2 linked regions of the Homo sapiens genome follow. The protein of the gene in region 1 interacts with the protein of each later gene in a biochemical or structural test. Each region holds a gene or a part of one and is shown on either strand. Other genes may lie near its edges.

The links.
Region 2: the proteins of MATN3 (region 1) and COMP form a complex in vitro, tested with the Homo sapiens proteins (one study listed by IntAct).

The regions. Positions count from the first base shown.
Region 1 is NC_000002.12:20,010,478-20,014,386, reverse strand, and holds the start of MATN3 (matrilin-3 precursor), read left to right. Parts: upstream 1-1,718; 5' UTR 1,719-1,755; coding exon 1,756-1,978; intron 1,979-3,909. UniProt on the Homo sapiens protein: Major component of the extracellular matrix of cartilage and may play a role in the formation of extracellular filamentous networks.
Region 2 is NC_000019.10:18,789,548-18,793,456, forward strand, and holds the start of COMP (cartilage oligomeric matrix protein precursor), read right to left. Parts: upstream 1,759-3,909; 5' UTR 1,723-1,758; coding exon 1,644-1,722; intron 1,389-1,643; coding exon 1,303-1,388; intron 1,067-1,302; coding exon 1,015-1,066; intron 568-1,014; coding exon 395-567; intron 1-394. UniProt on the Homo sapiens protein: Plays a role in the structural integrity of cartilage via its interaction with other extracellular matrix proteins such as the collagens and fibronectin.

The sequences.
Region 1 (3,909 bases):
GACAGCAGACTGTGGGACTTCTCAGCCTTCATAATCGCATGAACCAATCCCTCATAATCTCAATTACTCCCCCCACCCTCTCTCTATATGTATGTGTATATAAAATTTATTGGTTTTGTTTCTCTCAAGAACCCTGACTAATGTAGGGTTCAAAGGCTTTGGGGATCATTCTAAAAGCAAGACGAAAGACAAATGTCCACCAGAGCTTGCAAATACTGTATTTATCAATCCCTCCTCTTCTTGGCATAGTTTCTTTCAAACTTCTTAGTGTCCTCTTCCCATTATTACAAACTTCTCGTTTCTTCTAAGGTCCTTCTAAATTGGTGAGTTCTCAGTGGGAGTTGAGTGACCTTTTCCCTCAGTGTGACTATCACTGCCCAATGTCATTGATACATTATACAACTCCCCATCCCCACTTCCCCTCAGCTCCTGTTAACCACCATTCTTTCTGTCTCTATGAATTTGACTACTCTAGATTCCCCATGTAAATGGAATCATACAGTATTTGTCTTTTTGTGACTAGCTTATTTCACTTAACATAATACTCTCAAGGTTCATCCATTTTGTAGCATCTGCCAAAATTTCCTCCCTTTTAAGGCTGAACAGTATTCCATTGTACGTAGATACTGCATTTTGCTTTTCCATTCACACAAAGAGAGACACTTGGGTTGTTTCCGCCTCTTGGCTATTGTGTATAATGCTGCTACCAGCATGGGGTACAAATATGAGAAGTGAGGTTTAGGATCGTGTGAGGAGGATCACTTGTAGAGGGAAAATAGTGAAATAGGACGACCAGATAGGCTCTGTTGGAACTCGCGCCCATTGTTTTAAGACGCAGCTCAAATGTCACCTGGTTTTAGAAGTCTTCCTGGTCTCCGCAGGCAGTCAGTATCTCTTTCCTAAATCCACCACATTCCCGTAGACAGACACCACATTTATGCAAATCTCCTTCTCACAGACAGTGAGTTCCATGGGGGTCCCCTGGCAGCCTCCAGCCCTGTACCATGCTAACTCTTCCGGAGAGGAAATGGGGCCTCGGGAGAGCCTTTGAAGCCTGTGTTGGTACAGGCTGTCCTTCCAGCTAACGGGGCTCTCTGGGGAATGTATGTTTGACTTTCTATTCCCGGTAATATAAGTTCAAATGTTTGTGGATATTTGAAGCTCGGATGAAAGCGTTTCTATTCATGCCCCTAGAATCTGTGAGGCCTTTTCTTTCTTTTTTTTTTTTTAAACAAGAGCCCACAGCAAAACTTGGGTTACTTGGCTGAGGAAAGGAATGTAGAGCTAGGAGCAGGGTTTCATCTTCAGCCCCAGTCGGGCAAACCAGTGGCAGAAGGGAAAGCAGAGCCCAGGGGTCCCCATCCCGTACCTGGGGCGCAGGCCCCGCTGGGGTGGGAGGGAGAGTGGAGGGCCGGGCAGGCTGCAGCCGCGGATGGCTGCCCCCCCTGCCCCGGTGTTACTGGGAGGACGGAGGTTGCGACAGCAGCCGAGCCCACCCAGTTGCAGCCGGCTCGGGGCTTAGGGCAGGGGCGGGAGGTGACCACCGCGCCGCTGGCCGCCTCGCCCAGACATTCCGTTTCTGCCGCTGGAATGCGCGGACAAGGCTCCTTGTTGGCCTTGGGCGGGGTTCGCCGGGCCGGCCTGGCGCTCGAGGCCCCGGGGCGGGGCGGGGCCCGAGGCCGCGGGACCTTTAAATCCGAGCCTCGCGTGGGCTCCTGGCCCCCGACGGACACCACCAGGCCCACGGAGCCCACCATGCCGCGCCCGGCCCCCGCGCGCCGCCTCCCGGGACTCCTCCTGCTGCTCTGGCCGCTGCTGCTGCTGCCCTCCGCCGCCCCCGACCCCGTGGCCCGCCCGGGCTTCCGGAGGCTGGAGACCCGAGGTCCCGGGGGCAGCCCTGGACGCCGCCCCTCTCCTGCGGCTCCCGACGGCGCGCCCGCTTCCGGGACCAGCGAGCCTGGCCGCGCCCGCGGTGCAGGTACAGGCGGGCGGCGGGAGGGACGCGTGAGCATCGAACGAGGAGAAGCCCAGGGCATCCACCAAGCGCGCTTCATCCCGGCCTCAGGCCGACCGTGGTGCGGGGGAAAGAGGCCCCTCCCGGATGAATCCTGTGGGGGAAACTGAGGTCCAGAGAAGGGGAGGGAGATGCCCAATATCACTCATGTGTCCAGGCTAGAGATGTGGGTCTCCTGAAGCTCTCACTCCCCTGTGATTCGGCCAGGAGCACAGGGCAGCTGGGGAGCGCAGGGGCTGCTGCCCAGCGGCTGCTGCTAAGCTCCGTCCCAGTCCTGACCTCTCCATTCAGTGAGCAAACCCTTCCTGAGACTCTGCTGTTAGTTCTCTTGGAATCTCTCCATCTCCATCCAATATCAGGGCGTGATCTTTCCTCCCCTCCCACAGTCCTCAGGCTGCCTCAGACTGGAAGGTAAGGGATGCGGGTGTGAGACCAGGAGGAGATCCGAGGAGCCGTAGGATACCCCAGGATCAAGACACTCTGGGTCTTTGGCGAACAATTCTATTTCTCTTTTTGGTCAGCAATTGATTCCTGAAGCAGAGCAAAGCTCATAGTGCAGCGAAGCGGGCAGGTCGTCTGACACAGCCCCTGACAGCACATGAAGGGAAACTGAGGCATATCAAGTTGAAGGGACTCTGTGAATCAGTATCAGAGGCCACAATAAAATTCAGGGCTCCGAAATCCCAAGCAAGGTCTCTTTCCACTGCCCCAGCCTACCAACCTCTTAATATGGTTTACATAAGATTGTATCTTCATTTCCAAAAAGCGCAGCTTCAGTCTTGCTAAAAAGAGTCTGTGCCAGGCCATTTCTGGGTATGCAGTCTCATTTGGCCAGCCACGCTGCATGCCTCAGGCTGATTTCAATTGTCTATCCCCTTCTGCATCTTTCTGGATAAGCTGAGAAGGAGCTCAAGGGACTCTTTCCTGACTCAAATACTCAGTCCCCGTATTTGAAGTGGCAGATTTGAAATGGCAAAAGCATTGCTGCTAAGGCAGGAGGTACCGGGGTCCACAGGGCTAGATTCAGCTGGTGGCTGGTTGCTCCAGGCCGGGAATTGAGGGAAAGCCTTTCTTCTGGAAGTTAATCTTACTCTAGTCCTGACCTGCCTCCCTCTGGGATGGGACTGGAAGAGGAAGGAGAGATTCAGCACCAGGTGGCCATGTCCCCCTAAGCTTTACTGGTCTTTCATTACCTAGAGTCCGAACCTGATCATGAATGATAACCCATTAATAAATGCGAGATTCCACCCTGTTCCAAATTATCTCCTTTTAGCAACCAGAAATTGCTAAGCTTCGCTATGGATTTTTATTTCTAGCAGGACTGTAAGGACTCAGTGGTATTATGAGTATGGGAACATTTTAGGAGATTCAGATTCTTTCTTTGTTCTTGGGAATCAAATTGCTGCTATTTAGTAAATGGGAGTGAGATTCAAAAACAACTAATGATTGATGCGGAGTACCAGTCAGGAAGGAACCAGATGTTCACAGAATTTTCTGCCACCATGGTCAAGCCTCAGGTATTAGTTTTCTATGGCCACTGTAACAAATTACTGTGAATTTAGTGCCTTAAGACAACACACATTTATTACCTGAGAGTTCTGTGGGTCAGAAGTCTGACCCTGGTCTCACTGGGCTAAGATGAAGGTGTCGGCAGGGCTGTGTTCCTTTTGGGAGGCTCTAGGGGAGACTGCATTTCCCTTCCCTTTCCACCGCATGAAGGCTGCTGAGTTCCTTGGCTTATGGCCTTTTTCTTCCATTTTCAGAGCCAGCTAAAGCAGGTTGAGGCCTTCTCCCATTGAGTTACTCACATTTCTTTCATCTGCCTCCCTCTTCTACTTTATAATTACATTGACTCACTGAATAATCCAGGATAACCTCTTGTGTAGAGCTCTTTG
Region 2 (3,909 bases), on another chromosome or scaffold:
GAGGGGGGCAGGGGTCGTCGGGGCGTGCGTGCCCGGCGGTGGCGGGGGGTCTGGGCGTGCGTTCCCTGGCTGTGGAAGGGTCGTTGGGACTGGCGATCCCCTGCGGCGAGGAGGGTAGCTGGGGCGGACCACCCCTGGCGGTGAGGGAGTCGTCGGGGCGGGCGTCACTAGCTATGTAGGGGGTTGTGGGGGCGGGCGTCCCGGGTGGTGACGGGGATGGTCCTTGGGTTGGGCGTCCCCCCGCGGTAAGGAGGTAGTCTGGCCGTGCGCCCCCGGAGGTGAGAGGCTCTTCGGGGCGAACACTCCCAGTGGAGGAAGGGGTCTCCCGGGCGGCGAGAGATTGGGGGGCGGTAGAGGGAGTCGTCAGGGCGGTGGAGTGTCGGGGCTAGCGCACCTCGTTGACGTCGGTGCAGTGCGAGCCGTTGCCCGTGAAGCCCGCGGGGCAGGGGCCGCAGCGCGCGCCGCTCTCCGTCTGGATGCAGGCCACGCCGGGGAAGCAGAAGCCGGGCGCGCAGTGGAGCAGGGGCCGCACGCTGGGTAGGCCGGTGCGTACTGACTGCTGCATCCCTGCGGGGGGGAGGGGGGAGAAGCGGCGGGGCTGATCGGTGGCTCGCCCGGGGGCAGAGCCTATCATGGCCACGCCCCGGGGCTGGAGGCTTCCCCTTCCCCCCCACCCCCCGCCCCGGGGCGGCCCGAAATCCTGCGCTGTCCGCGATCCCGCCCCAGAGGCTGCGCGCTCTGACCGCGGGGTCTCCCCGGTCTCTTCTCTGAGTCTCTGTCCCGCTTTTCTGCCCCGTGGCGTCTCTCACTTCCCCAAAACTCTCTCACCGCTTCTGTCTCTTTTTGTCTCTGTTTCTACACACCCCATCCCATTCCCGTTCGTCCGTCCACCTCTCCGTCAGCCTCCATCTCCTTCCGTCTCTTTTCCTCCCCAGCTTTCCCTGGCTCTCTGTCTCTGTCTCTGTGTCTCTGTCTCCCGTCTCTTCTCTCTCCCGACCGCCCCGCCGCGCTCACCGCACGCGTCACACTCCATCACCGTGTTTTTCAGGAACGTGATCTCCCTGACCTGCAGGGGTGGGATGGAATCAGCGGGGTCCCAACCTCTCCTCATCCCTCGGGTCTCCCCTCTCTCTACCCCGGGGTCCCTTTCTACAGCCTCTTTTCGCCAAGGACTCCCTACCCGCCGACCCCCTTCCCTCCCCATCTCCTCTCCACCTTCTCGGGTACTTCCTCTCTCCTCGCTGGGAACTGAGACCCCCTTCCGTTCCCTGGCACTCCCTGCCCCGCACCCGGGCCCCGCACCTGCTGCCGCAGCAGCTCCCGCACGTCCTGCAGCGCCGCGTTGGTTTCCTGCAGTTCCCGAAGCATCTGCGGGCCCAGGTCTGAGCCTGCGGCGGCAGGGGACCTGGTGAGGCGTCATGGGGCCGGGGAATCCCACCACCAACTCCCACCGTTGCAGCGAACCCGGACCTCCGAGGCCCCACTGCGCTCCTCTAGTCTCGGTCCCGCCACCTGCTTTCTGCGCCCGGCACGTCCCCTACGAACAGTCCGTGAGCCCCAAACAGCCTGGATCCCGGGCCTCTCACGGGTCCTACAGTCCGTTGTGGGGCCGTGGGCACGGCGCGGGTGCTAACGCGGCTTACCCAACGGGCTCTGGCCCTGTCCGGACGCGCCGAGGGCAGCCAGGGTGAGCAGAAGAACGCAGGCGGTGTCGGGGACCATGGCGGTGGCGGGGAGCTGGGTGGCTGCTCGCTTTCTACCGCCCACGAGGCCCGCGGGGCCTATTTATCCCCAAGGCACGGCCGGCCCCAGGGACGGCCCACCACAGCCCTGCCCAACGTCCAGCCTCAAGGTAAACAGATGGCGCTGGCCCCTGCGTTCAAGTCCCCGCCCGGAATGCCCCGCGAAGTCGCCCGCGGCTGAATCCGACATGGTGGGGAAACTGAGTCCCGGGGTCTGTGGAGAGAGCTGGTGGGGCAGGGAGTCAGGGGGTACTGCCCCCACTTTCATTCACTGTGTGTGTGCGTCTGTGTGTGTGTGTGTGTGTGTGTGTGACGGGGTGTGGCTGTATCGCATCCTCTTGCTTCAGTCTCCCATGTAGCTGGGACTACAAGCCCGCACCACCAAGTCCAGCTAATTTATTTTTATTTTTATTTTTATTTTTAGAGACCGGGTCTGGCTATGTCCTGCAGGCTAGTAGTCTCAAACTCCCGGCCTCAAGCGATACTCCCCACATAACTGGGATTACAGGATCCAGCCATAGCATTCAGCTCATTGATTGATTGATTGATTGAGTGCTTGCTGTATGCCAAACCTGAGTTCCAGTTCCAAACAAGGCAGGCTCCATGGCCACGCTCTCAGCTCACACTTCGGGAAACAGAGTCACCAGCGTCTGAAAAAATAGGTCCACCCACTATGGATCAGACTGACTGGCCCTCCACTCCTCCTGAAGTGCTTCAAAACTGGGTAAGTTGCTGGGTGCGGTGGCTCACACCTGTAATCCCAGCACTTTGGGAAGCCAAGGCGGGCAGATCACCTGAGGTCAGGAGTTTGAGACCAGCCTGGCTAACATGGTGAAACCCCATCTCTACTAAAAGTACAAAAATTACCCAGGCGTAATTCCTCCCTTGCACAATGGAGGTAATAAGTTAATAATTATTAATTAATGATTAATAGTAATGATGATTATGATGATGAATGGAAAATAGGGGAGGGGCAGTTGAGACCTGGGACTCTCAATTTTCCTGCCTCTGTCCAAGGAGGCCGCTTCTGGCCCCAACGCTGGAGGGCTGCAAATGACTCCCCCCAACCCAACTCATTGCTGGTGTTCCCTCCCCTCCCCATGGTCCCTCGGCTGGTGGAGGAGGGGACAGCGTTCAGGATCTTGCCCCAACCCCTGTCCAAGGGGACAGGCCCACTTGGTTTTCCAATCTGCGCAATGGGGTGTGAGGCCCCCATCTGGAGGGGAGCAAGTTAAAGGGCTCTAGCAAGGGGAGGTCCGGGGCTTCTGTTTGTCCAGGCTGTGCCATACCTTCCAAACTGTGCTCCAGCTGCTGTGGGAACAGCCTGTAATAAAAATAAAAGTTACCGCTAACTGGCCAGCCACACTCTGGAGTTACAAAACCCCTTAACCTCCTGCAATCAGTTAACACTCTCCACTCCCACCTTCCAGTACTCACAGCGTCTATTCTATAGACAGAGAAACTGAGGCCCAGAGAGAAAAAGTGACTGGCCTAAGGCCACTGCCCGAGGGCAGGGGTGAATCTAGACTCAGAGCCAGATATGTTTTCTGGGGAGCCTACAGAGAAGTCACCGAGGGCTTCCTGGAGGAGGTAGCAAGGAGACAGACATAAAAGAAAAGGAGGACTTGGATCAGCAGAGGGAAAAGGTGAGGGCAGTTTTGGTGGAGGGAAGCATGTGAAGCTTGGAGGTGGGGACATTTCTAGACACAATAATTATTTCACAAACATCAAGGACTGTTGTGTGTCATGTCTCCTGTGCTGGGTGATGGGCACACAGGGTGAAGAAGCCAGACCCAGTCTCTCCTTCAAATGGGGAGCCCAGTGGGCTCATGGCTGTGACGGGACACACAGACAATGGTAGGAGTCCCCAGGAAATTGATCTGTTTGAAAGGGGATGGGTCAGGGCGGGCTTCTGGAGGAGGAGGGACCACCAAGCTGAGGACCGGATGATGAGGAGGACACAGCCAGGCAGAGGTAGCAGAAAGTCATTCCAGGTAGAGGAAACAGCATAGGCAAAGGCCCTGAGGCAGGAACCAACCTGGCCCGTTGGATGGACTGACCTCAAGGTGACAAGCTCTTGGGGCTCAGTGAGAAGCAGGAGATGAGGCTGTGTGTGAAAGGGCAGTGCTGGTGGTGTGGGGCTCCAGTGGTCTCCCGAGGGTAATGG